Linked DNA regions of Homo sapiens: all the other regions are linked to region 3. The links come from fine-mapping of genetic effects on gene expression. A gene starts in region 3. Each other region holds a variant in brackets. All regions are shown on one strand. Distances are from middle to middle. Region 1 has its middle 9.7 kb from the start of SSX3. Region 2 overlaps FTSJ1 (FtsJ RNA 2'-O-methyltransferase 1). Region 3 holds the start of PORCN (porcupine O-acyltransferase).

The links. PIP is the estimated chance that this variant, and not a neighbour inherited with it, causes the effect.
Region 1: its variant is fine-mapped to the expression of PORCN in thyroid (GTEx, PIP 0.93).
Region 2: its variant is fine-mapped to the expression of PORCN in fibroblasts (GTEx, PIP above 0.99).

What each region holds. Positions count from the first base shown.
Region 1 is chrX:48,362,373-48,370,445 of GRCh38, forward strand. No RefSeq gene overlaps it. Among named protein-coding and RNA genes, the nearest start is that of SSX3, 9.7 kb to the left of the region's middle. The variant G/C (reference allele first, on the strand shown) is at 4,167.
Region 2 is chrX:48,483,575-48,491,647 of GRCh38, forward strand. FTSJ1 (FtsJ RNA 2'-O-methyltransferase 1) reads left to right here. Exons shown (of 13, transcript NM_012280.4): 13 at 2,162-2,776. Among named protein-coding and RNA genes, the nearest start is that of FTSJ1, 11 kb to the left of the region's middle. RefSeq lists a silencer at 5,514-5,747. The variant G/A (reference allele first, on the strand shown) is at 3,901.
Region 3 is chrX:48,504,965-48,513,037 of GRCh38, forward strand. PORCN (porcupine O-acyltransferase) reads left to right here and starts at 4,028. Exons shown (of 15, transcript NM_203475.3): 1 at 4,028-4,139; 2 at 4,820-4,992; 3 at 6,331-6,523; 4 at 6,928-6,971; 5 at 7,362-7,543; 6 at 7,625-7,755; 7 at 7,871-7,888. The coding sequence starts at 4,857. It overlaps PORCN-DT (PORCN divergent transcript), which reads right to left and starts at 3,875. Exons shown (of 2, transcript NR_135596.1): 1 at 3,755-3,875; 2 at 1,562-2,091. RefSeq lists a silencer at 3,855-4,254.

The DNA of each region.
Region 1 (8,073 bases), 140 kb before region 3:
CGCTTCTCCTATATTTTCTTGTAAAACTTTTTTTTTAGTTTTTTTGTTTGTTTGTTTGTTTTTTGAGATGCATTCTTGCTCTGTTGCCCAGGATGGAGTGCACGATCTCGGCTCACTGCAAGCTCCACCTCCCGGGTTCACACCATTCTCCTGCCTCAGCCTCCCGAGTAGCTGGGACTACAGGCGCCTGCCACCACACCTGGCTAACTTGTTTGTATTTTTAGTAGAGACAGGGTTTCACTGTGTTAGCCAGGATGGTCTCGATCTCCTGACCTCGTGATCTGCCCACCTCGGCCTCCCAAAGTGCTGGGATTACAGACGTGAGCCACCGTGCCCGGCCTTTTATAGTTTTATATTTTAGATTTAAATCTATGATCCACTTGACTTACTTTTTTGTATAAAGGTGTGAAGATTAGGCCTTTTTGGTTTTTTTTTTTTCTTTTTGGCCTATGGCTCTGCAACTGCCCCAGCATCATTTGTTAAGCAGATGATCTTTCCCTATTTTTGTCTCTTGGTAAAAAATCAGTGTGGGGCTATTTCTAGGATTTCTATTTTGTTACAGTGATCTATGTGTCTATTTTTCTCCCAATAATATATAGTCTTGATTCCTGTAGCTATATAAGAAGTATTGAAATATGGTAGAGCAATTCCTCCCACCTTATTCTTCTTTTTCAAAAATTGTCTTAGCTATATAAATATTTTTTGAGATGGAGTCTCACTTTTGTCGTCCAAGCTGGAGGGCAGTGGGGTGACCTCGGCTCACTGCAATCTCTGTCTACCGTGTTCAAGCGGTTCTCCTGTCTCAGCTTCCCGAGTAGCTGGGATATCAGGTGCACGCCACTACACCGGCTAATTTTTGTATTTTTAGTAGAGACAGGGTTTCGCCATGTTGGCCAGGCTGGTTTCAAACTCCTGACCTCAAGCGATCTGCCCGTCTCAGCCTCCCAAAGTGCTGGGAATACAGGTGTGAGCCACCGGGCCCAGTGTTGTCTTAGCTATTGACAATTTGTTACAGCAGCAATCAAAAATGAATACACTTAGAAATAGATTAATTAGTGAAACAAAATAATAAGTCAAGAAACAAACTAATTTATATACAAACTTAAGCATGCATTTCCAAACAGTGGGCAAAAGATGGGTTGTGTAATAAAGGATTGTTGACAAGTGTCTATCCATTTGGAAAAATAAACATTAAATCCTTACTTTCAACCACATAAAATAATAAATTCTAAAAATTCAGAGACTTAAATGTGAAAACGTGAAGTCATAAAGAACTAGATGAAATTTTAGGAAAATATTACAGTGTAAGACATCTTGAGTTGGCATAGGCACTTCCTGATATTACACCAAGGCTATAAATAATGAATCTGACATATTTAAAGACGTAAAAATTAAAGTATCATCTAAGTCAAAAGACACCATAAAAAACTGTTTAAAAAGGCAAATATTAGGCCAGGCACAGTGGCTCATGCCTGTAATCTCAGTACTTTGGGAGGCCAAGGCGGGCAGATCACGAGGTCAGCAGATCGAGACCATCCTGGCTACCACGGTGAAACCCCGTCTCTACTAAAAGTACAAAAAATTAGCCGGGTGTGGTGGTGGGCGCCTGTAGTCCCAGCTGCTCGGGAGGCTGAGGCAGGAGAATGGTATGAACCTGGCAGGAGAATGGCATGAACCTGGGAGGTGGAGCTTGCAGTGAGCCGAGATCGCACCACTGCACTCCATCCTCGGCAACAGAGTGAGACTCCATCTCAAAAAAAAAAAAAAAAGGCAAATTTTGGGGAAAATGAAGCATCCCCAATAAATTAACAGTAACCATCTCTAATATATAACAAAGCGTTTCCATATCAATAAGAGAAACTGGAACAACCCAATGAAAAAATGTGTTCAGGCATGGCACTACTTTATCATATAGCAGAAAAGGATTACAAAACAGAAATTACGAAAGGAAAATAATAAAGGAAGTGGAGAAGAGATCCAAGAACTTTCAACGTTCATCCAATAGAAGATCCAGAGGTAGAGAATAGAAAGACTGGGATGGGCGCGGTGGCTCACGCCTGTTATTCCAACACTTTGGGAGGCCAAGGGAGGCAGATTACCTGAGGTCAGGAGTTCGAGACCAGCCTGTCCAACATGGTGAAACCCCGCCTCTACTAAAAATACGAAAATTAGCCCAGTGTGGTGGGGGGCACCTGAAATCCCAGCTACTTGGGAGGCTGAGGCAGGAGAATCACTTGAACCCGGGAAACAGATGTTGCAGTGAGCTGAGGTCCTGCCACTGCACTCCAACCTCAGTGTCAGAGCAAAACTCCATCTCAAAAATGAAAAAAAAAAATAGACTGGAGAGAAGGCAGTACTTGAAGAAATAATGTTCTAGAATTTTCCCAGCTGAACAAAGACATGAATCTTCAACCTGAAAAGAGCCACCTAGTTCTGAGCCTGATTAACACACATGTGCACACACACCTGTGCACGCACGAGCGCACACACACACACACACCCTCGGGGTAAAATTTCTAGGATAAAGATAAAATCCTGAAAGGTCCCAGAGAGAAAAAGAGAAGAGAGAATGCAATGGAGAGGTTTTTCAAGGAGCTGATTTAAAATAACTTTGGGCCAGGCGCAGTGGCTCATGCCTGTAGTCCCAGCACTTTCGGCGCCAAGACCGGATGCTCGCTTGAGCTCAGGAGTTTGAGACCAGCCTGGCCAACAAGGCGAAACCCACTTCTACAAAAAACACAAGTAACCAGGTGTGGTGCCACATGCCTGTAGTCCCAGCTACTTGGGAGGCTGAGGCAGGAGAATTGCTTGAGTCCGGGAGGTGGAGATTGCAGTGAGCCGAGATTGTGCCATTGCATTCCAGCCTGGGTGACAGAGCCAGGCACTATCTCAAAAAAACAAAACAAGAACAAACAATAAAAAAAGTTGAACCTAGATATCTATATACAGCCAGGATAATCCAGAATGAGGGGAAAAATATTTCAGAAAATTCATGACGCATATACCCTTCAGAAATAATTATTGGTATACAGTCCTGTGAGAAGGGAAAACTAAATTTAGGAGGAAGGAGGTGATTTCAGTAAGCAATGGTGAGGAGAAAAATAGTAAAATTTATTGAAAAGTGTAAACTTTAGATTGAAAAATTTAAAAATTACAGTCTTGAACTAAAATTCCCAGTATTATAAACTTGGAAGATGGGAGCAGGGACAAGAAAGAAAAGATAAGCTGTTTTGGTGTTCAAGGAATGGATACAGATGCTAATGAATGATAGAATTTGGTGGTGCATGCCTGTAACCCGAGCTACTCAGGAGGCTGGGGCAGAAGAATCACTTAAACCTGGGTGGTGGAGGTTGCATTGAGGTGAGATCACACCATTGCACTCCAGCCTGGGAAACAAGAGTGAAACTCTGAAAAAATAAGTAAATAAAAGGCCAGGCACAGTGGCTCACGCCTGTAATCCCAGCACTTTGGGAGGCCGAGACAGGTGGATCCCTTGAGTTCAGGAGTTCGAGACCAGTCTGGCCAACAAGGTGAAACTCCGTCTCTACCAAAAATACAAAAATTAGCCTGGCATAGTGTCACACGCCTGAGGTTCCAGCTACTCAAGAGGCTGAGGCAGGAGAATTGCTTGGACTCGGGAGGCAGAGGTTCAGTGAGCCAAGATCGTGCCACTGCACTCCAATCTGGGCGACAGAGGAAGACTCTGTCTCAAATAAATAAATAAATAAGTAAATAGAAAACCTATTGGATAGATTGGATATGAAAACATTAACTGCTCAAATAAATAATTCAGCGGAATAGATTGGATGTTAAAACCGATATAGTTGAAAAAGCAATTACTGAGCTGAGGAAATGCATCTAAAGAATTCATGAAAGTAATCGGTAATGGATAAAGAAGAAGTAAATGAAAGAAAAGTTAATTAATAGGGAGGATAGAAGAATAAATGTCAAAACACATCTAATAGTAGCCTTATAAGAAGAGAATATAGTCATTAAAAAGGAGAGTGTACTTAAATAAGTAATCAATGAGAATTCCTCAGATTTAAAAAAATGACTTAAGATTTAAAGGTATTATAGTACACACACACACACACACACACACACAGGAAAAGTGAAATGTAAAATTGTGAAAGACAAAGAAAAAATATTTTAAAAATGAACAGAGA[G/C]AAATAGCAGGTTACTTACAGAGGAAAAATAATTAAACTGACATCGGATCTCTCAAATACTACACTGGAGGCAAGGATACAATCGTGTAATAATTCCAAGGTGTTGAAAAATATGATTTTTTTTTGACTGAGTCTCGCTTTCTCACCCAGGCTGGAGTGCAGTGGCATGATCTCAGCTCACGGCAACCTCTGCCTCCTGGGATCAAGCAAATCTCCTGCCTCAGCCTCCTGAGTAGCTGGGGCTACAGGCACACAACACCACACCCGGCTAATTTTTGTACTTTTAGTAGAGATGTGGTCTTGCCATGTTGGCCAGGCTGGTCTGGAACCCTTGACCTCAAGTTATCTGCCTGCCTCGGCCTCCCAAAGTGCTGGGATTACAGGCATAAACCACTGCACCCGACGAAAGAAAGGAATTTTTATACCGGTGGAGTAAAGACAATGTCAGCCATATGACTTCAGGAGATTGAAGACACAGGGAAATGTTGAAGCAAACAAGTATTTATTGGGCTTATTAAAGACTGTAAGGAAGGGCCAGCTGCAGTGGCTCATGCCTGTAATCCCAGAACTTTGGGAGCCTGAAGCAACAGGATTGATTGAGCCCAGGAGTTCAAGACCAGCCTGGGCAACATGGCAAAACCCCGTCTCTACAAAAAATTCAAAAATTAGACGGGCATATCAAGTTCCTGGGTCTGTAGAGAATTTAAATATATATATATATATACATGGCTGGATTTGGTGGTGCGTACCTGTAATCCCAGCTATTTGGTAGGCTGGGGCAGGAATATTGCTTGGGCCCTGGAATTTCAGGCTGCAGTGAGCTAGGATTGGGTCACTGCCCTCCAGCCTGAGTTACAGAGTGAGACTTTGTCTCTGAAAATAAAAAAAAAAAAAGATCGTAAGGACGATTTTACTCAGAGGGGGGACTACTGTGATAGGTACAGGGACCACTGCAATGGGGTCTTGCAGTGGGAGAGTGATATTGGGATCGACTTCAACTCCACAAGGACAAGTGGGGATTTGTAGTCAGGGAGTAGGAGCCGGGGGTCAGAAGATGGGAAATTACTTGGAGGAAGCCTCAGGTGCAGGGGGATTCTGGCTAAACCGACTTGACAGGTTTTTTGCTGAAAAAGGCTAAATGGGCAGAGTCCCTGGATGAAGGACAGAGCCTGAGGTTGAGACCTAGTCAGAAACAGGACTCAGAGGAGCCCGATTCAAGTTTGGTCAAAGGAGAGTGTCTCTGTCTGAAAGCATAAGCAAGAAAGCCAACAGCAGTAAAATGAATGGGTCACAAAGGAGAATTTTTGTGCATTGCTAAGCAGGGCTCTGCTTTAACCATTGTGAAAGAAGTGAGTCATTCTTTTTTTTTTTTAGATGAAGTCTCGCTGTGTCACCCAGGCTGGAGTGCAGTGCGTGATCTCGGCTCACTGAAACCTCAGCTTCCTGGGTTGAAGCGATTCTCCTGCTTCAGCCTCCCGAGTAGCTGGGACTACAGTCACGTGCCTCACACCGGACTAATTTTGTATTTTTACTAGAGACAGGGTTTTACCATGTCGACCAGGCTGGTCTCGAACTCCTGACCTCAAGCCATCTGCCCGCCTTGGCCTCCCAAAGTGCTGAGATTTCAGGCGTGTGCCACTGAAACCCACCTGAATTGAGTCATTTTCCACATACACAACTAGGTCAGAGTTGAGTGGCCAGGGGAGAAACCAATCAGGGCACATTGCACCTGCTCCAAGAATTGAATTTTCCACAAAGCTGGTGGCTGAAATGGCCTGCTGCCACCCTAAGAGCACTTTTACCTAGTAACTGCTGAAACAACCTGCAATGACTCTAAGGCTTGTTTTACCTATTGTCCACACTCACCAATCAGAGCTTCCAGCTCCTGAAAGCTTCTCTGGTGCCAAGGGACTTGCTTTAAAAACTATAGGTAACATTTCTGTTTCTAATAAAACTCTCAACTTTCTCATTGTTCTTTGGACATACCAAAGACCAGCCAGTTTGTGTGTATGCTTCAGATTACAATTCTATGATTCTCAAATAAAATGTTTAGAGATTCATGGGCGTGGTGGATCACGCCTGTAATCCCAGCCGTTTGGGAGGCTGAGGCCGGCGGATCACTTCAGCCCAGGGGTTCGTGACCTGCCTGGGCAACATGGTGAAATCCTGTCTCTACAAAAATTACAAAAAATTAGCTGGATGTGGTGGTGCATGCCTGTAATCCCAGTTATTCCAGAGGCTGAGTCGGGGAGGCAGAGGTTGCAGTGAGCCGAGATTGTGCCACTGCACTCCGGGGTGGACGACAGAGTGAGACCCTGTCTTAAAAAACAAAAACAAAAACCATAATATAACATCCTTAATATTGCGATTTAAAAAAGAGATTCATCTCCATAGGTTTTGACTTTGATATTTGTGGTGTCAGAAATCGGGTCCGAAGCTGACTCACCTTGGAGATATCAATGACCTCTGGAACTATGGCGTGAGGTCTGCACACTTGGTCCCCTTGAGCTTTTGCTTTTCTGGTTGCCTCTTTCCCCCCGGTGAGACTTTCTTGGATCAAACTGCCATTTGTCGGGGAGTTGAGTTCAGTTTTATTTGGGAATTTGTTAGGAAGGGTCTTTCTCTGTCTCCTGGTTATGAAACCTCCTCTTTTCTTTTCCTTTCTTTTCTTGTCTTGTCTTTTTTATCTTGTCTTTCTCTTTTCTTTCTTTCTTTTTTTTTTTTTTTGAGACAGTGTTTTGCTCTGTCGCACAGGCTGCAGTGCAGTGGTGTGATCTGGGCTCACTGCAACCTTCACCTCCCAGGCTCAAGTGATTCTCGTGCATCGTCCTCCCGAGTAACTGGGATTACAGGTGTGCGCCACTACGCCTGGATAATTTTTGTGTTTTTTAGTAGACATGTGGTTTCACCCTGTTAGCCAGGCTGGTCTTGAAGTCCTGAGCTCAAGTGATCTGCCCGCCTCGGCCTCCCAAAGTGCTGGGATTACAGGCGTGAGCCACTACACCCAGCCAGAGACGGCCTGTTTAAGAGGGATTTTCTCCCTCCTGGTTATGAGGCCGGGTTACAGAGATTTTTCTGTTAGAGAAGGCTTCTCATGCTTCCTGGTAAGTTTGTACTTTATTTTCTGAGTCGTTTGCATGCTTAGAGTTTAATTTGGCTTTTGTGTATTAGGCATTAAACCGAATCACCTAGATTAATTTATTTACACACAGGCTCTCAAAGTTCAAAGGCATGCCAACATAGTTCCCTCTTTCTGGGACGCCAGCTGGTAATATGTGCCAACATTACGGGGATCATTCACGCAGTCTGTTTTCCTCAAACTGAACTAAAATAATACAGTCCAAATGGGACTCCTATCTCAGTTGGTATCTTGAGGCTCCAGAACACATTCAAGACTCAAAGGCTGCCTCACTGCAAGATATTGTCTAAAGCTAGCTGAGATTTTCTTCTCCAACACCTTCCCCTCTCCTTCGTTTACCTCTTCCTCTTTATCCTTCTTTAAGCAAAACTCTTTTTCCAAAACTCCTCAGCTACTCTGGCATACTGACTATTAAAATAAAGACAGTTGAAAGACATCAGATACAAATAAAATAAAATCACTGACCTTTGTAGTGTTTCTTAAAAGCAAAAGATGAAATTCCCATGTAAAAGATCTCCTTCCTATACTAAAAGGAAAGACAACACTCTTATCTTCAAGGATGAGGAATTGAGACCAAGAGAACATTATACAAAGCTTATTGGAATACCTCTTATCTTTTGGGCCTCCTCACATAATTCAGTCACATTTTTACAGTTAACAATTCTTTGTCTAATTCAACATGTTGGTAACTGACTCAAACTGCTTTACCCAAAATTTGGGTCACCACCTTCATAAGATTACCTATTGAGGAGAAAAATCTTAAATAAA
Region 2 (8,073 bases), 21 kb before region 3:
TCCCGGGCTCAAAAAATCCTCCCACCTCAGCCTCTCAAGTAGCTGGGACTACAGGCATGTACCACCATGCCTAGCAAATTTTTGTATTTTTAGGGGAGATGGAGTTTTGCCATGTTGCCCAGGCTGGTCTCGATCTACTGGGCTCGAGCGATCTGCCATCCTCGGCCTCCCAAAGTACCAGGATTACAGGCATGAGCCACTGCGCCCAGCCAGTTTGCACTTTTTAAAAGGGTTGTCATAGAAGGCCTCAGACATTCCTCAGAGGTAATGTTTGAGCAAAGACCTGAAGGCACTGCCGGAGGGAAGCCATGTGTTTATCTGAGGGAAGAGCATTCTGGGTAAAGGAAATAGGCATGTCCCAAAGGTGGAACTGCACGTGGTATGGGAGGAAAGTTTATCCATAGCCAAATGTTCTAAAACCACGATGTTAGAGGATGGCCCTTTCTGACAATGGCATAGCAGGTTATTCAGACTAAGTCAGCCATCACAAAAAGCCACCTTTTTTTTTTTCTTGAGACAGAGTCTTACTCTGTTACCCAGGCTGGAGTGCAGTGGCATGATCTCAGCTCACGGCAACCTCCATCTACCAAGTTCAAGCGATTCTCCTGCCTCAGCCTCCCAAATAGCTGGGATTACAGTGCCCGCCACTATGCATGGCTAATTTTTGTATTTTTAGTAGAGATGGGGTTTTGCCATGTTGACCAGACTGGTCTCAAACTCGTGACCTCAGGTGATCCACCTGCCTCGGCCTCCCAAAGTGTTGGGATTACAGGTGTGAGCCACCACACCTGGCCTTTTTTGTTTTGTTTTTTGTTTTGTTTTGAGAACAGAGTCTCGCTCTGTCGCCCAGGCTGGGTGGAGTGCAGTGGCACTATCTCAGCTCACTCCAACCTCCGCCTCCCGGGTTCAAGAGATTCTCCTGCCTCAGCCTCCTGAGTAGCTGGGATTACAGACGTGTGCTCCCACCTCACCCGGCTAATTTTTGTATTTTTAGTAGAGACGGGGTTTCACCATGTTGGCCAGGCTGGTCTCAAACTCCTGACCTCACAAAATCTGCCTGCCTCAGGCCTCCCAAAGTGCTGGGATTACAGGCCTGAGCCACCACACCTGGCCACAAGAAGCCACCTTAAGAAAAAATTGAAACAGCAAATCATTGTGTGAAAGAGATTTACAGTTTTTAATATTTAAAGGGTCCTGTAAATCAATAAGGAAAAACATGAGAGTGGCCAGTAAGCACATGAAAAGCTGCTCATCAGGAAAATACAAGTGAAAACTCAAAATATCAACAACACTAAGTATTTGAAAGGATATGCAGCAATTGAAAGCCTCGTACATGCTACTGGGAAGGTAAAATGGTGCAGCCACTGTGGAAACTTAGGCATTACCTACTAAAGCTGCATGTGTGCCAGTTCCACTCCTAAGAAATGAGTCCTAGAGGCCGGGTGCCGTGGCTCAACGCCTGTAATCCCAGCACTTTGGGAGGCCGAGGTGGGTGGATCACCTGAGGTCAGGAGTTCAAGACCAGCCTGACCAACATGGCAAAACCCCATCTCTACTAAAAATACAAAAATTAACCGGGCATGGTGGCGGGCACCTGTAATCCCAGCTACTCAGGAGGCTGAGGCAGGAGAATCACTTGAACCTGGGAGGTGGAGGTTGCAGTGAGCTGAGATCGTGCCACTGCACTCCAGCCTGGGTGACAGAGTCAGACTCCATCTCAAAAAAAAGGAAATGAGTCCTAGAGTGTTGCTAGCAGCACTATCTATAGTATATGCCCATTAAATCGTGGTACATTCACCGTGGAGAACTGTACAACAATGACAGTGAACATCCTGCAATTACACCAAATAACACCTTGTAGTTATTCATTAAACTGAACATATATAGGTTTTATGCATTTTCTATATGTCATGGTTCACCATAAAAGGAGGAAATGTCACAAAAATGTTAGCAGCAGAGTTAGCTAGGTGTGGTGGCACATTCCTGCCTGTAATCCCAGCTACTTGGGAGGCTGAGGTGGGAGGATCACTTGAGCTTGGGAGGTTAAGGTTGTCGTGAGCTATGATGGAGCTCCACTGCACTCCAGCCTGGGTGACAGAGCAAGACCCTGTCTCTAAAAAAACAAAACAAAACAAAAAAACTTTCTTTGACTTTTGGTTAGCTGGCAAACTGATACAACTCAGAAACTGCTCAATGTCAGGAAAACCGGAACTTGTTGATGAACTTGTTTTCAAAATATCATCTCATCAACGAGGCCTGGACAAACAAGCCCTGAGGAGGGATCTGCAACAACCCTGAAGACAACAAGGAAAGAAACCATGAAAGTCTGTCTGTACTGCAGTGGGAATTCTTGAGTGAGGTCTTACCTCTTCTTTAAACCTCTTCAGGAGTGTCCTGATTATGTCCAGAATTTTCCCTAAAGGCAGGGATTCTTAACCTGGATAGAAGCCAGGGGTAACCATGAACTTGATGGAAGAAAATGTTACATCTTTATTTTCAGCAATGAAACTGAAATTTAGCCTTACTCCCAAGTTATAAATGCTGGCAACAAATCACAGTAGTAAAAGCAGTACCTGGGATTTTCCCACCAATACAAACCAGTTACAGCAACTGTAATGTAACATAAAAAGGGCATCTTGAAGTATTGTTCATATTTGTCACCTCTTGGAATGATAGCAGATCCTGTAAGTTGATGTATTAATTAAAAAGCCCATATATTACTGCATCTCAATTTTGTTTCAATTTAATATATAGTAATAATTGTAATTCAATGTAATTGGCTTCCATTGTAATTGTGTGTGTGTGTATGTGTATGTATATACTTTTAAAAATATTCTGTGAAGGGGTTCACAGATTTAACCAGATGCCAAAGGGTTCTGCAGAACAAATTTATTTATTTATTTTGAGACAGAATTTCGCTCTGTCACCCAGGCTGGAGTGCAGTGGTGTGATCTTGGCTCACTGCAACCTCTGCCTCCTGGGTTCAAGCGATTCTCCTGCCTCAGCCTCCCGAGTAACTGGGATTACAGGCACCCGCCACCACACCCGGCTAATTTTCGTATTTTTAGTAGAGACGGGGTTTCACCATTTTGTCCAGGCTGGTCTCGAACTCCTGACCTCAGGTGATCCACCCACCTCGGCCTCCCAAAGTGCTGGGATTACATGCGTGAACCACCGCACCCAGACTTCAGAACAAATTTTTTAGGTTAAAAACCTGTCTTAAAGAAACGTCAGGGCCAGGCGTGGTGGCTCACGCCTGTAATCCCAGCACTTTGGGAGGCTGAGGCAAGCGGATCACTTGAGGTCAGGAGTTTGAGACCAGTCTGGCCAACATAGTGAAACCCGTCTCTACCAAAAATACAAAAATTAGCTGGGTGCGGTGGCACATGCCTGTAATCCCAGCTACTCAGGAGACTGAGGCAGGAGAATCACCTGAACCCGGGAGATGAAGGTTACAGTGAGCCGAGGTCGCGCCACTGCACTCCAGCCTGGACGACAGAGTGAGACTCTGTCTCAAAAAAAAAAAGCAATGTCAGAAAGTCTACCTGGACTGCAGTCCTAAATTTCTATAACTTAATGAACAGGAGCTGACAGAAACTCCCCAGCTACACGAACAGAACTGTTTTCTACAGCTTAATCCTGTGTCCTTAGAAATTCACGTACTCTGTGATCCAAGGACTATCCACGCCACAGTCCAGTGACCTCAGGAGTATCCACATACCAGTCTGCGACCCCAGCTGTTTCCACACCTGACTGTGACTCACCCCAGTTACCATGTGTGACCCCAGGAGTATGCACACTCAAGTCTGGGAAAACCATTGTCCAATCTCCAGTCAGAAATGGTGTTTAAATTCTGGAGCGTGTGTTCATAGGCATGTCTACACTCCGGTCTCTGACCAC[G/A]AAAATAACCACACCCCAGTCTGTGTGACTCCAGGAATGTCCAGACCCCAGTTTGTGTCAGTCTAGGAGTGTCCACACCATGGTGACTTAACCCAGGAGTCTTCTCACCGAAGTCAGTGTGACCACAGGAATGCCCACACCCCAATCTGTGAATATGCACAGCCCAAGAATGTATGGCGGAAGTGTCCACACAAAAGGCCGTGTGACCACAGGCGTAGCCACACCCATTACAGTGCAAATTCAGCAGCGTTCACACGACAGCCTGTGAGACCTCAGGAGTGTCCTCACGCCAGGTTCTGTGAGTCCAGCAGTGGCAATGGCTTGGAGTTTCCATAGCCATCTTAGTGGTGCCATAAATGTGTAGCTCAAACGGTGACCACAGAGGAGTCCACAGCTCAGTCTGTGGTGTCCTGGGAGTGGTTTTGCCCCAGTCCAGCCACCTCAGGAGTGTCCCCACCCAAGTTTTTATGACACAAGTAATGTCCAGTTCCCAGCATATGTGACCCTGGTGTTGTCCAAACCCCATAGTCTCTGGCTATTAGTGTGTCTATACCCATCTTGACGGCCTCAGGCAGGTGCACTCCCCCATCTGTACGACCAGAAGACTATCGACTCCCCTGTCATTGTGACCACAGGAGTGTAAAACTCCAGTGCCAGTGACTACTGGTGGGTCCACATTCCAGTCTGGGTGACCCAGGGGAGGGCACAGCCCTGTCTGTGTGACCATAGGAGTCTTCACACCCCAGTGTCTGTAAACACACAGGAGTCAATTCCCCAGTCAGTGTGACCAGAGGAATGTTCACACCAAATTGTGTGACCACAGGAGTGTCCACACCTATCTGCATGTCCTGAGAGGTGTCTATACTCCAGTGGGTATGACACCAACAGTGTCCACAACAAAGTCTGTGTGACTCCAGGAGTGTCCCTCCCCCCAGTCAGTGGGAGTCTAGAAGGATCTACACCAAGTCTTGGGAGCCCAAGGGTGTCCCTTCGCCAATCTTTGTCACTCAGGGGACATTCACCCCCCAGTCACACAGACGAAGCATATCCACAGCTGGGTCTGTGTGACCCCAGCAGAGTCTACTTCACAAGTCGTGTAACCACAGGAGTGTCCCCAGACGAACCTATGGGAATCCAGGAGTGTCCACATCACAGTCACTTGACCACAGTGGTGCTGACTTCCCAGTTTATGTATCCTTAGCCATGTCCTTTTTCCAGACTGTGTGACCCTAAGTGTCCACACCCCAAACTCGGTGATCCAAGTCACTCCAGTCTGCGTGACTCCAGTGTTGCCCACACACCAATCTGTATGACCCTAAGAGAACACATCCCGGTCTGTGATGCTTCAGCAGTGGCCACACCCTACTCTGTGTGACCCCAGAAGTGGCTACACCACAATCAGCATGACCTCAGGATTTCTTACTCCAAAATCTAGTAACATCATGAGTGTCTACACCCTCACCTGTGTGATTCCAAGAGGATCCACACCCCAGGCTGTGTGACCCTGGGAAGGTCCCTATAGCAGTCAGTGTAAACCTGGGAGTGCACTCTTCCCTGTCAGTGTGAGCTGGGAGGGTGTATCTAGAGGAAGAGTGATCCAGGGAAAGGCGAAGGGCCGGATGTGGTGGCTCACACCTGTAATCCCAACACTTTGGGAGGCCAAGGTGGGTGGATCACCTGAGGTCAGGGGTTTGAGACCAGCCTGGGCAACATGGTGAAACCCCGTCTCTACTAAAAATACAAAAATTAGCCAGGCGTGGTGGCACATACCTGTAATCCCAGCTACTTGGGAGGCTGAGGCAGGAGAATCACTTGAACCTGGGAGGCGGAGGTTGCAGTGAGCTGAGGTTGTGCCACTGCACTCCAGCCTGGGTGATAGGCCAAGACTCTGTCTCAAAAAAAAGAAAGAAAGGCAAGGGCCCTGAGGCAATGGCCCTGAGGTGCCTGGCACATTTGAAGAACAGGCCAGTGGGGCAGGAGCAGAGTGAACAAGGAGCCAGTGGCGGGCGGTGAGGTCAAGGAGGGCCCGGAGGGCCTCGTGGGCCACGGAGAGGACTTTGGCTTTTTCTCTGAGAGAGATGAGAGCCATGGCAGGGCTCCGAGCAGAGGAGGGCCCCGGGCTGACTTGGGTTGCAACAGGATCCCTCTGGCTGCTGTGGTGGCGGCTACTCAACTGTTATTGTTTGTCAAAACTCAGAGAACTGTATGCCAAAAGGGTGAACTTTATCGTATGTAAATTATAACTCTTTACATTTAAGTTATAACTTTTGGAAAATGTGCAGTACTGGCCAGGCATGGTGGCTCATGCCTGTAATCCCAGCACTTTGGGAGGCTGAGGTGGGAGGATCGTTTTAGCCTGGGAGATTGAGGCGGCAGTGAGCTGAGATCATGCTGCTGCCCTCCAGCCTGGACAACAGAGCAAGACCCTGTTTTGAAGAAAAAACAAAAAACAAAACAAAACAAAAAAAGTGCAGTACTTTGCAAGCAATAAAGATTTCTATTTCTGCAAGAGAGGCTGTGCTCATGCCTGTCCTTACCCCTCTCCTTCCTGCACAAACACATCTCAGGAATGCACCTGAGGAAAAGGAGGGAGCCGGGGCCTCCCTCAACTGCTCAAGGTAGTGCTCCCTTTGTTGTCTGCTGTGAACTGAATTGTGAATTCAGCAAATTCCTTTGTTGAAGCTTTAATCCTCAATGTGACTGTATTTGGAGATGGGGGTAATTAAGATTAAATGAGGCCATAAGGGCAGGGTCCTAATCTGATAGAACCGGTGTCCTCATTAGAGAGGGAAGAGATGCCTGAGCTCCCTCCCTCTCTCCCTGTGGGCGCACAAAGGAAAAGCCACATGAGGACAGAGAAAGAAGGTGGCTGTCTACGAGCCAGAAAGAGAAGCCTCACCAGAAACCAACCCTACCGGCACCTTGATCTTGAACTTCCAGCCTCCAGAACTGTGAGAAAATAAACGTCTGTGGTTTAAGCCACCCAGTCTGAGGTATTTTGTTAAGGCAGTCTGAGCAGCTAATTGGCTCTCAGTTTCAAGGCTGATTTCAAGAGACTCGTGTTGGCCAGGTATGAGGGGAGCCAGTGCTCAAGTGAAGGAAGGAAAATTCAGCACATCCTCCTCGTCTAGCTGAAGGGGGCTCTGGAGCAGCAGGAGGGGCCCAGGGCAAGCCTGGAATGAAATCCGTGGCACTCCTGCAGGTTCTGGGGGCGGTGTCCATGGAATATCCTCTGCCACATAACAAAATGACTAATAATTGCTTGGGGAGCTTTCAGAACTGCCCCAAGGCTTCCTCTAACACTCCACCCACACCTGGTTCATGCCAGGTTGCTCGATGCCTTGGTTCGGGAGAATAGGTGTGGTGTCATCTCAGGCTTGGTGGCAGCCCAAGGGAAGGGGCAAGTGTTCTGAGTCTCTCTAGATGACACAGGAGCTGAGGAAAGCTGGAGTGAATTATGAGTCACAGCCCGTACCTCACAAGAAAGTTCTGCCCGATGCCAGAGCTGGGAGCCATCACCAGTTATGCAGGGTTGGTGGAGAAGAGCCTCGGGATAATTGGTATGCATGCCCGCACATAGGTGTGTGCGTACCAGTACGTGTGAAGTTATGCAGGAGTGCGTGGTGTGCTTATGCCCATGTGTGTGCACATTAGTCCTTTTGTGCATGCATGCATACATGGCACATGTGTGTGCATTCATGCTTTGCTGTTTTGAATGCAGGTATGGTTATAAGTGCATATGGGCAACAGAAGTTCAAGTGTGAATTCTCATGGAGATGCTAGGGTGTAGCAGGCACATGGGGACCTGTTCCCTGACAGGGGTGTTTGTGAAAAGCAACTGTGCATATGTGTGAGGGTGTACTTATATATGAGATTCTATGTGCAAAGCCCTATGTCCGTGGGTGCTAGCCTGAGTGTTTGTGTCTGTGTATATACATGTGTATGCCAGCGTGCACATGCATGGCTGTGTGTGAGTGCGTAAGTGAAGGGGAGCACATTGGCCCAAGCTGGTAAGTCTAGTATCTATGCATGTATACCCCTGGGCACCGCCCCCCCCGCCCCGTGCAAGTGTGAGTGAACAGGTACACAAGGGCCTGGGCGTAGATGTCTGTGCACATGTACGTGGGCATGCTGTATGCATGGCTGCAGGGATTTCCCACGTGTGTGTGTGCA
Region 3 (8,073 bases):
AGAATCTGGCCAGGCACGGTGGCTCATGCCTGTAATCCCAGCACTTTGGGAGGCTGAGGCGGGTGGATCACCTAAGGTCAGGAGTTCGAGACCAGCCTGGCCAACGTGGCAAAACCCGTCTCTACTAAAAATACAAAAATTAGCCAGGTGTGGTGGCGGGTGCCTGTAATCCCAGCTACTCGGGAGGCTGAGGCAGGAGAATCCATTGAACCCAGGAGGTGGAGGTTGCAGTGAGTGGAGATCACACCACTGCGCTCCAGCCTAGGTGACAGAACGAGACTCCGTTTCAATAAATAAATAAATAAATATAAAAAATAAAATAAAATAAGAATCTTATGAGTCCCAGAGAGAGAGAGAGAGAGAGACAAAGCTCTTCCTCACAGTAAAATCCCAGGTATATGTGTAAAAGAAAAATCATTATTTGGCCACCATCAGAGTAGTTATTGCTTCAGGCAAGAATCACCAATGAATGCTAAAGTAGTGAGTAAAAGTTTGATTTAAAAAAAATTGCAGAGTTACAGTCTCAAAGTATCTCCCGAAAAGCTACTTATTAATTACAAAAGGGGATCATGCCTGTAATCCCAGCACTTTGGGAGGCCAATGCAGGAGGATTGCTTAAGCCCAGGAATCCGAGACCAGCCTGGGCAACATAGTGAGACTGTTTCTACAAAAAATTTAAAAATTAGCCGGGCATGGTGACTCACACCTGTAGTCCTTGAAGATTACATGAGCCCAGGAGTTCAAAGATGCAGTGAACCATGATTGTGTCAATGCCCTCAAGCTTGCGTAATAGGGCAAGACCCTGTCTCCAAAAAAAAAGAAAAAAAATTACAAAGGGAAAAATAGTAAATTTATACTGGTGAAAACTAGAAGACCACTTTAAGCAAAAGATCAATGCTAATACTAACAATTTCGAGACTAACTGAACCCTCCTGCCTCCTGATAACGCTGAGAACACAGCGTCACTTCTGTGGAATTCCTGCCAAAAATGCAGAATTCAAATCTAATCATGAGGAGACATCAGATAAACCCAAATTGAAGGACATTCTTCCAAAGAACTGGTCTGTGCTCTCCCAAAACATCAAGATCATGAAAGTTAAGTGAAGATGGAGACATTGTTCCACATTGGAGGAGACTAAAAAAACCTGATAACAGAATGTATCTTGTGACCCTATGATTCCCTTTTCCTATACAAGGACACTATTGACATGCCCACCAGGGTGGCTAGAACCAAAAAGTCAGATAACAAGTATTTGTGAGGATGTGGAGCAATGGAAACCTCATACTATGCTGGTAGCAATGTAAAAAAAGAAAAAAAAGTCCTTGCTCTTAGGATATTCATACTGAAGTATTTAGTTAAAAGGGTGTCATATCCGCAACCACTAACAAATAATTCAGAAAAATCACTGTATATCATTCAGAAAAATTATATATATGTAAATTACATATGTATATACATGGGGAGAAAGAAACGGACAGAGACAGAGAGAGAGCAAATATGTTATCATTATAAGGCTTGGCATTTTTGTCAGTCCCATAAGTGAAAAATAGTATATCATTGTTTTTAATTTGTATCTCTTTAATTATGGAGAGCTCATCTAAAACACCCCAGAAACCACAACCTAGAATGACCACAGACATTTATTGAGTGTCCACCCTCTACTAAGCTCCAGTGATAAAAATATGAAGCACAACATCTGGTAGATGTAAAATGGTATTATATCTCACTGTTGTTTTAATTTTACATTTCCCTGAGCAGTAAAGAGATTGGGTTATCTTTTCATATATTATACATATTGACCATTTTAGGTTTCTTCTGCTGTGAATTACCTATTTGTACCCAATGTCTATTGCCAAGTGTATTGTTTGTCCTCTTCGGATTTGTAGATGTTCGTTATATATCCTAAAACCTAGATCCTACTTCTTTGTGACACAGGTCAAAAGCCTAGATGGAAACAATCAAGTCCGCAAAGCCCAGGAGCACATGTGGTAAGAATCTTCCAGTTTTAAATGCCAAGTCTTGCAATTGAGGGAAGTATTTCTGGTAGGTGCTGTGGGTCATTGTTGACTCAACTTGAGTGGGTTTGACAACTGAGAAAAAAATTAAAATGAAATTTAATTCATAAAATGTATGTCCTGTATTCTGCTGTTAAGGAAAAGAATTGATATTTGTGCATCTGGTCTAAGCTATTATTCCTTATATATACATATTCTTACCGTATTAAATGTTTTTTGTTTGTAATACATGAATACTAATTTATGAGCTAGAACTCCATTTAACTTCATGTTAAAATAGAGAGAAAATATACATTTCTCTTCAATTACCATTGGTGTTTCCCAGCAAAAACCTGCCAAGCCCACTCTTTTGTTTAACAGAAAAGGACAATGGAGACGGGTGAGTGAACATGACTTGCCCAGCTCCATACAGGCCATTGTTAATCTGATTAAAATCTGTTTCAGTTGGCTGCCCAGGTCAGGGTGGCGTCCAGTTTGACCTGGGCTTCCTTCTCCCTTCCACGTCACAGCTAAGCATGTAGTGCAGTAAGCGCCCAGTAAGTGCTCTTTTGGAAAAATAGGCCCTTCATCAGCCTAGGTACAAAGGGGAATGCCTAGAAACTGCAGCAGTAGGGTAGGTAGAAGGCGGGTGCTACATAAATCTTTAGTGTTGGTGCAGATAGAGGTGCGGATGGGGCCAGTGTAAGCGCTTTCTTTTTTATTTTATTTATTTATTTATTTAGAGAAGGAGTTTCGCTCTTGTTTATTTATTTATTTATTTTGGAGAAGGAGTTTTGCTCTTGTCACCCAGGCTGGAGTGCAATGGCGTGATCTCGGCTCACTGCAACCTCCGTCTCCTGGGCTCAAGTGATTCTCCTGCCTCAGCCTCCGGAGTAGCTGGGATTACAGGCGCCCAGCTAAATTTTTTGTATTTTTAGTAGAGACAGGGTTTCGCCATATTGGCCAGCCTGGTCTCAAACTCATGACCTCAGGTGATCCATCCGCCTCGGCCTTCCAAAGTGCTGGGTTACAGGTGTGAGCCACCACGCCCAGTCTTTATTTATTTATTTTGAGACGGAGTTTCGCTCTTGTAGCCCACAATGACGCGATCTTGGCTCACTGCAACCTCTGCCTCCTGATTCTCCTGCTTTAACCTCCCGAGTAGCTGGGATTACAAGCGTGCGCCACCACGCCTGGCTAATTTTTGTATTTTTAGTAGAGACGGGGTTTCGCCATGTTGGCCAGGCTGGTCTCGAACTCCTGACCTCAAGCTATCCTCCTACCCTTGGCCTCCCGAAGTGCTGGGTTTATAGGCGTGAGCCACCGAGCCTGGCCCTTAAGAGCTTTATAAATGCCCCCCTTTTAAGTGCTCGGTACTAGCCTCCCTCTAGTTCACAGAGAACATTTACTAGTCGCTGGGGTCACCTTCGAAGCAAAGAGTCTGCTGGGGAATTAAGCATGCAAATCACTTCTCAACGACGACACGCCAAGTGCTCACAGCTCGTCCCCAGGGGAAGCACAGGCGCCTAATTTGTGTTCCTAGGTGACACAGTCATTACTTATAAATGTTCCTGGCCGGTCCCAGGAGGTGGGAGGGTTGGGAGTTACTTCGGTTCTCTCAAAGGTTGGGGAAGGAGAGATCTCGGTTTGTTTTCCCATCTGTGAAACGGGGACACCACGGTATTTAGAGGACGTGCGCGGGTGACTATTTGGGGGTGCAGCGGCTTCCCTCCTCCCTCCCCCATCTTTCCCTTCTCACTTCCAAGGCTTGGAAATTTGGAGATTCGGAAGTTTGTTCTTGGATGGCCAGAAATCCTCCGGAGGCAGACGGTCTGGGGCTGAAACCGCCACAGGCCGGAAAGGTGCGGGCGTGAACGTCCTGCGCGCCGACGTCCCCCCGCGCCGGTCTCCCCTCAATCCTCCTGCTCCCCTCCTCCGCGTCCCCGTCCCCGCCCCCCTCCTGCTCTCCCATTGGCCGAGCCGGCGGCCGGGCCGCCCCGGGATTTAAAGGGCCCGCTCGCCGCGCCGCTCTGGGAGCCGCTGCTGGTCCCGGCCTTGCGGCCTGCGGGGGAGGCTGCCCGGAGGAGGCAGCGGCGGCGGCAGCGCGTCCTCGGTCCCCAGGACCACGGCTTCTTTCCTGCCAGGTAGGTCGCCAGTAGTGCGCACGCGGCTCCCCAGCTCCCATCCCTGGGCCGGCCTCCCCAGGCGGATCTGTAGCGCGAGTGCTAGGACCCCCTCCCCATCACCTTTCCGACTCTCCCTCAGGCTATGTCTCCTACCACCACCTCCTTGCAGCCCCCGGACCTGGGCAGGACTTTGTTGGCGGCCTCTCGCCGGGTGGGGATGAGATGGGGGGCGCGGAGGATACAGGACACCCCCCCTCCCCGTGCCGCCGCATCCATACAAGGAGAGATGCACACGGCCCCCAAGTGTCACAGAATCCCCCTCTCTGCCCTCCACTCAGAGCGACTCTACCTTGGAAACCAGGGATTCCCCTTCCCGTCGCCCGCCCCATTTGATATATGGGCCTGAAATGTATGCCATCCCATCACCATCGGACTGGACTGTTCACAGCACTGGAGAGACAGAGGTCCTTCATTCACTCCAGGTCACAGGCTGTGCGTGTGCATGCCGAACACCCACATGCACACAGTTGGTGGCTCAGTCTGATGTACCTGACTTCTCACGCCTTCCCCCAGTCCTCCAGTACCGTGCCTCTACATGGGCTGGGCAGCCCCAAACTGAAATGTGAGTGCCAGAGTGCATCCTTTAAGCGAGGTCTGCCCCACGGACACCCGCTCCCTCTGTGTCCCTGCTTTGACAGATCTATCCATCTGGCCATCCATCCGTGGGGGTCTGCAATGGCCACCTTTAGCCGCCAGGAATTTTTCCAGCAGCTACTGCAAGGCTGTCTCCTGCCTACTGCCCAGCAGGGCCTTGACCAGATCTGGCTGCTCCTTGCCATCTGCCTCGCCTGCCGCCTCCTCTGGAGGCTCGGTAAGTGCCTGCCATACCGTGTGCCACCATGCCAGGCCATATCAGACCTCCCACATTCATCCATATCGAGCCACACCTTACCCTGTCACATCCTGCCAGGCCCTAGCATGTCCAAGCTGGACCCCAACATGTTCAGCCCCACCACATCCCACCAGGCCAAACCCCATTCCACCATACCACATCCTACTATGCCAGCCACCCCATGCCATGCCACACCGAGCCACATCCTGCCATGCCAAGCCATGCCCTTCAGTATTCCTGAGTTCTGGGATTCCAGAAAGCTGAGATTCTTGGATCTTGGGATTCTGAAATGTCTACATCCCAAGGTTATAAGACATTGGCATGCTGATGTCACAGGGTTATGGAATCCCAAAGTACCATGATTACAGCGTTTGGAGATTCTGACAATTTGAAATTCTCACATTCTAGACTTCTAAAATGTTGGCATTGTGGATTTCTATAATCAGGGCATGATGCGATTTCTGGATTCTAGGATTCTGAAATGTTTCCACAGTCATAGCAGGCCTGTATCTTAATGAAAGATTCCAAGTCCCCAAGATTCCTATAGGAGGCGGAGATTTCTGGAAATCTGAGATCCGAAGGTTCTACACTTTCTTTTTTCTTTCTTTCTTTTTTAATTTTAAATGGATGTTCTATTTTTTCCCAGGTTTATTATTTTGAAATTTTTCAAAGCTACTGAAATGTTGAAAAAATAGTACAGTGAGCACCCACGTATGCATCACCAGATTCTCTGTCAACATCTTGCCACGTTAGCTGGCTCTATCTGTCTATCTATCTATCTATCTGTATATCTATCCATCTATCTATCTATCTATCTATCCATCTATCTATCTATCATCTTCCTGAATTGCCTGAATAACCTGCTGACATCATGACACTGTACCCCACATCCTTCAGTGTGTGGCCCCTGAGAACAAGGACATCATCTCCCACAACCACATCCTCCACCATCACCCCACAAGACATTGAATCTGGATACAATAATGTTATCCTATATAAATTGATATTTGAATTTCTTCCAAGGTCCCCCAAATGCCCTTTATAGATGTTTCTTTTCTTTAAACCCAGGCCCTGCCACCCTCTCCAGCTCCCCAACACCTGCTTTGGGCCCCTCCAATCCCACTACATTCCAGCCTGAAGGCCTTTGCCCTGGCTACGCCCTCTACCCAGGTCATCCTCCCCTTCCTACTAGCCCACCAACCTTCTCTTTCTTGTTCTCCCTCTCTCTCTCCCTCCCTCCCTCCCTTCCTCCCACTCCCTCTCTTTCTCTCTCTTTCTCGTTCTCTCTCTCCCTTTCTTTCTCCCTTTCACCCAAAGGGTTGCCATCCTACCTGAAGCATGCAAGCACCGTGGCAGGCGGGTTCTTCAGCCTCTACCACTTCTTCCAGCTGCACATGGTTTGGGTCGTGCTGCTCAGCCTCCTGTGCTACCTCGTGCTGTTCCTCTGCCGACATTCCTCCCATCGAGGCGTCTTCCTATCCGTCACCATCCTCATCTACCTACTCATGGGGTATGAGTATGCATCCTTATCCTCACACTGTTGGCTGAAGTGCATGGGTGGGTCCCCAGGCCCCATATGAAGTTGTCCAAGACAGGGAGGGTGGTGAGATTCCCCGGAGAAAGAAGGGAGTCTGGGAGAATCATTTGCCTATGAGGAGACACAGAACAGGTAGGACGTGGAGTGTCCCTGGAGAAGGGAATCTGGGAGATTTGTCCTTTCACAGGACTGTAAGGGACAGGTTGGGCATGGGCTCCCCCTGGAGGAGGGAGCCTGGGAGAATTTTTCCACCATGAGACTGTTGTAGGACAGGAGGAGGTAGAACCCTCTGGGCACCTTGGACCCCCTTCCCCTGTCCCCCATGGTCTCAGAGGCCATGAGTGTCATGGGACCAAGACCAGCACCTTTTTCCTCAGTGAGATGCACATGGTAGACACCGTGACATGGCACAAGATGCGAGGTAGGTAGCCCTGCCCCTCTCACCTGCCCAACCCCCCTGCCCCACTCCTCGTCTCCTAACTGCCCCCACCCTGTGCCTTTCCTCTCCTGCTTTTCTCCCTCACCTGCCCACCCCACTGGACGTGCAGACCTCACATTACTCTTGGGTCCGTGTCTCTTTCCACCGTGCATTTTCCCGAAGTCTGTCTGTCTCGTGTCATGTATGTGCCTGACTCTCTGGAGTAAGGGCATCTATCTGTCCTGGGCTTCCTTGCCCACCTGCCTATCTGTCCCATGCCCACCTATCCATCCTTGTGCCCGCTTTTCCTACCACATCTCACCTGGTGCACCTCCTCCTTGCCATGCTGATCTGCTCTCTGCCCATCCACTTGACCATGGGCACCACACATAGGGGCACAGATGATTGTGGCCATGAAGGCAGTGTCTCTGGGCTTCGACCTGGACCGGGGCGAGGTGGGTACGGTGCCCTCGCCAGTGGAGTTCATGGGCTACCTCTACTTCGTGGGCACCATCGTCTTCGGGCCCTGGATATCCTTCCACAGCTACCTACAAGCTGTCCAAGGCCGCCCACTGGTGAGGTCCTGAGTGGATGGGTGGGCAGGGACTGTGGGAGCCACCCTGGGGCAGCACTCATGGAGTGCTTGATCCCTACAGAGCTGCCGGTGGCTGCAGAAGGTGGCCCGGAGCCTGGCACTGGCCCTGCTGTGCCTTGTGCTGTCCACTTGCGTGGGCCCCTACCTCTTCCCGTACTTCATCCCCCTCAACGGTGACCGCCTCCTTCGCAAGTGAGCACAGCCTTCGAGGCCCCTGCCCAGCAATGAGGGGGTTGGGTAGGGACCCGCGGTTTCCCCAGTTCTGAGCCTGTCTCTTAATGCTTCTTTCTGTCTTCTGTTACTACAGCAAGAAACGCAAAGCCAGGTAAATGAGGGCAGGTGTGAGGGCACGTGGAGTGGGGCTGACATGAGTGGGGGCAGAGCCCATGACCAATGGGTTCTGTGTGTCCAAGTGTGTCTGACCGTCAACTCCATGACTAGACAGAGACTGTGGTTGGCTGGCTGGCTGACGAAGCTTGGCTCTGTGACTCTGTTTGACTGACACTCCAA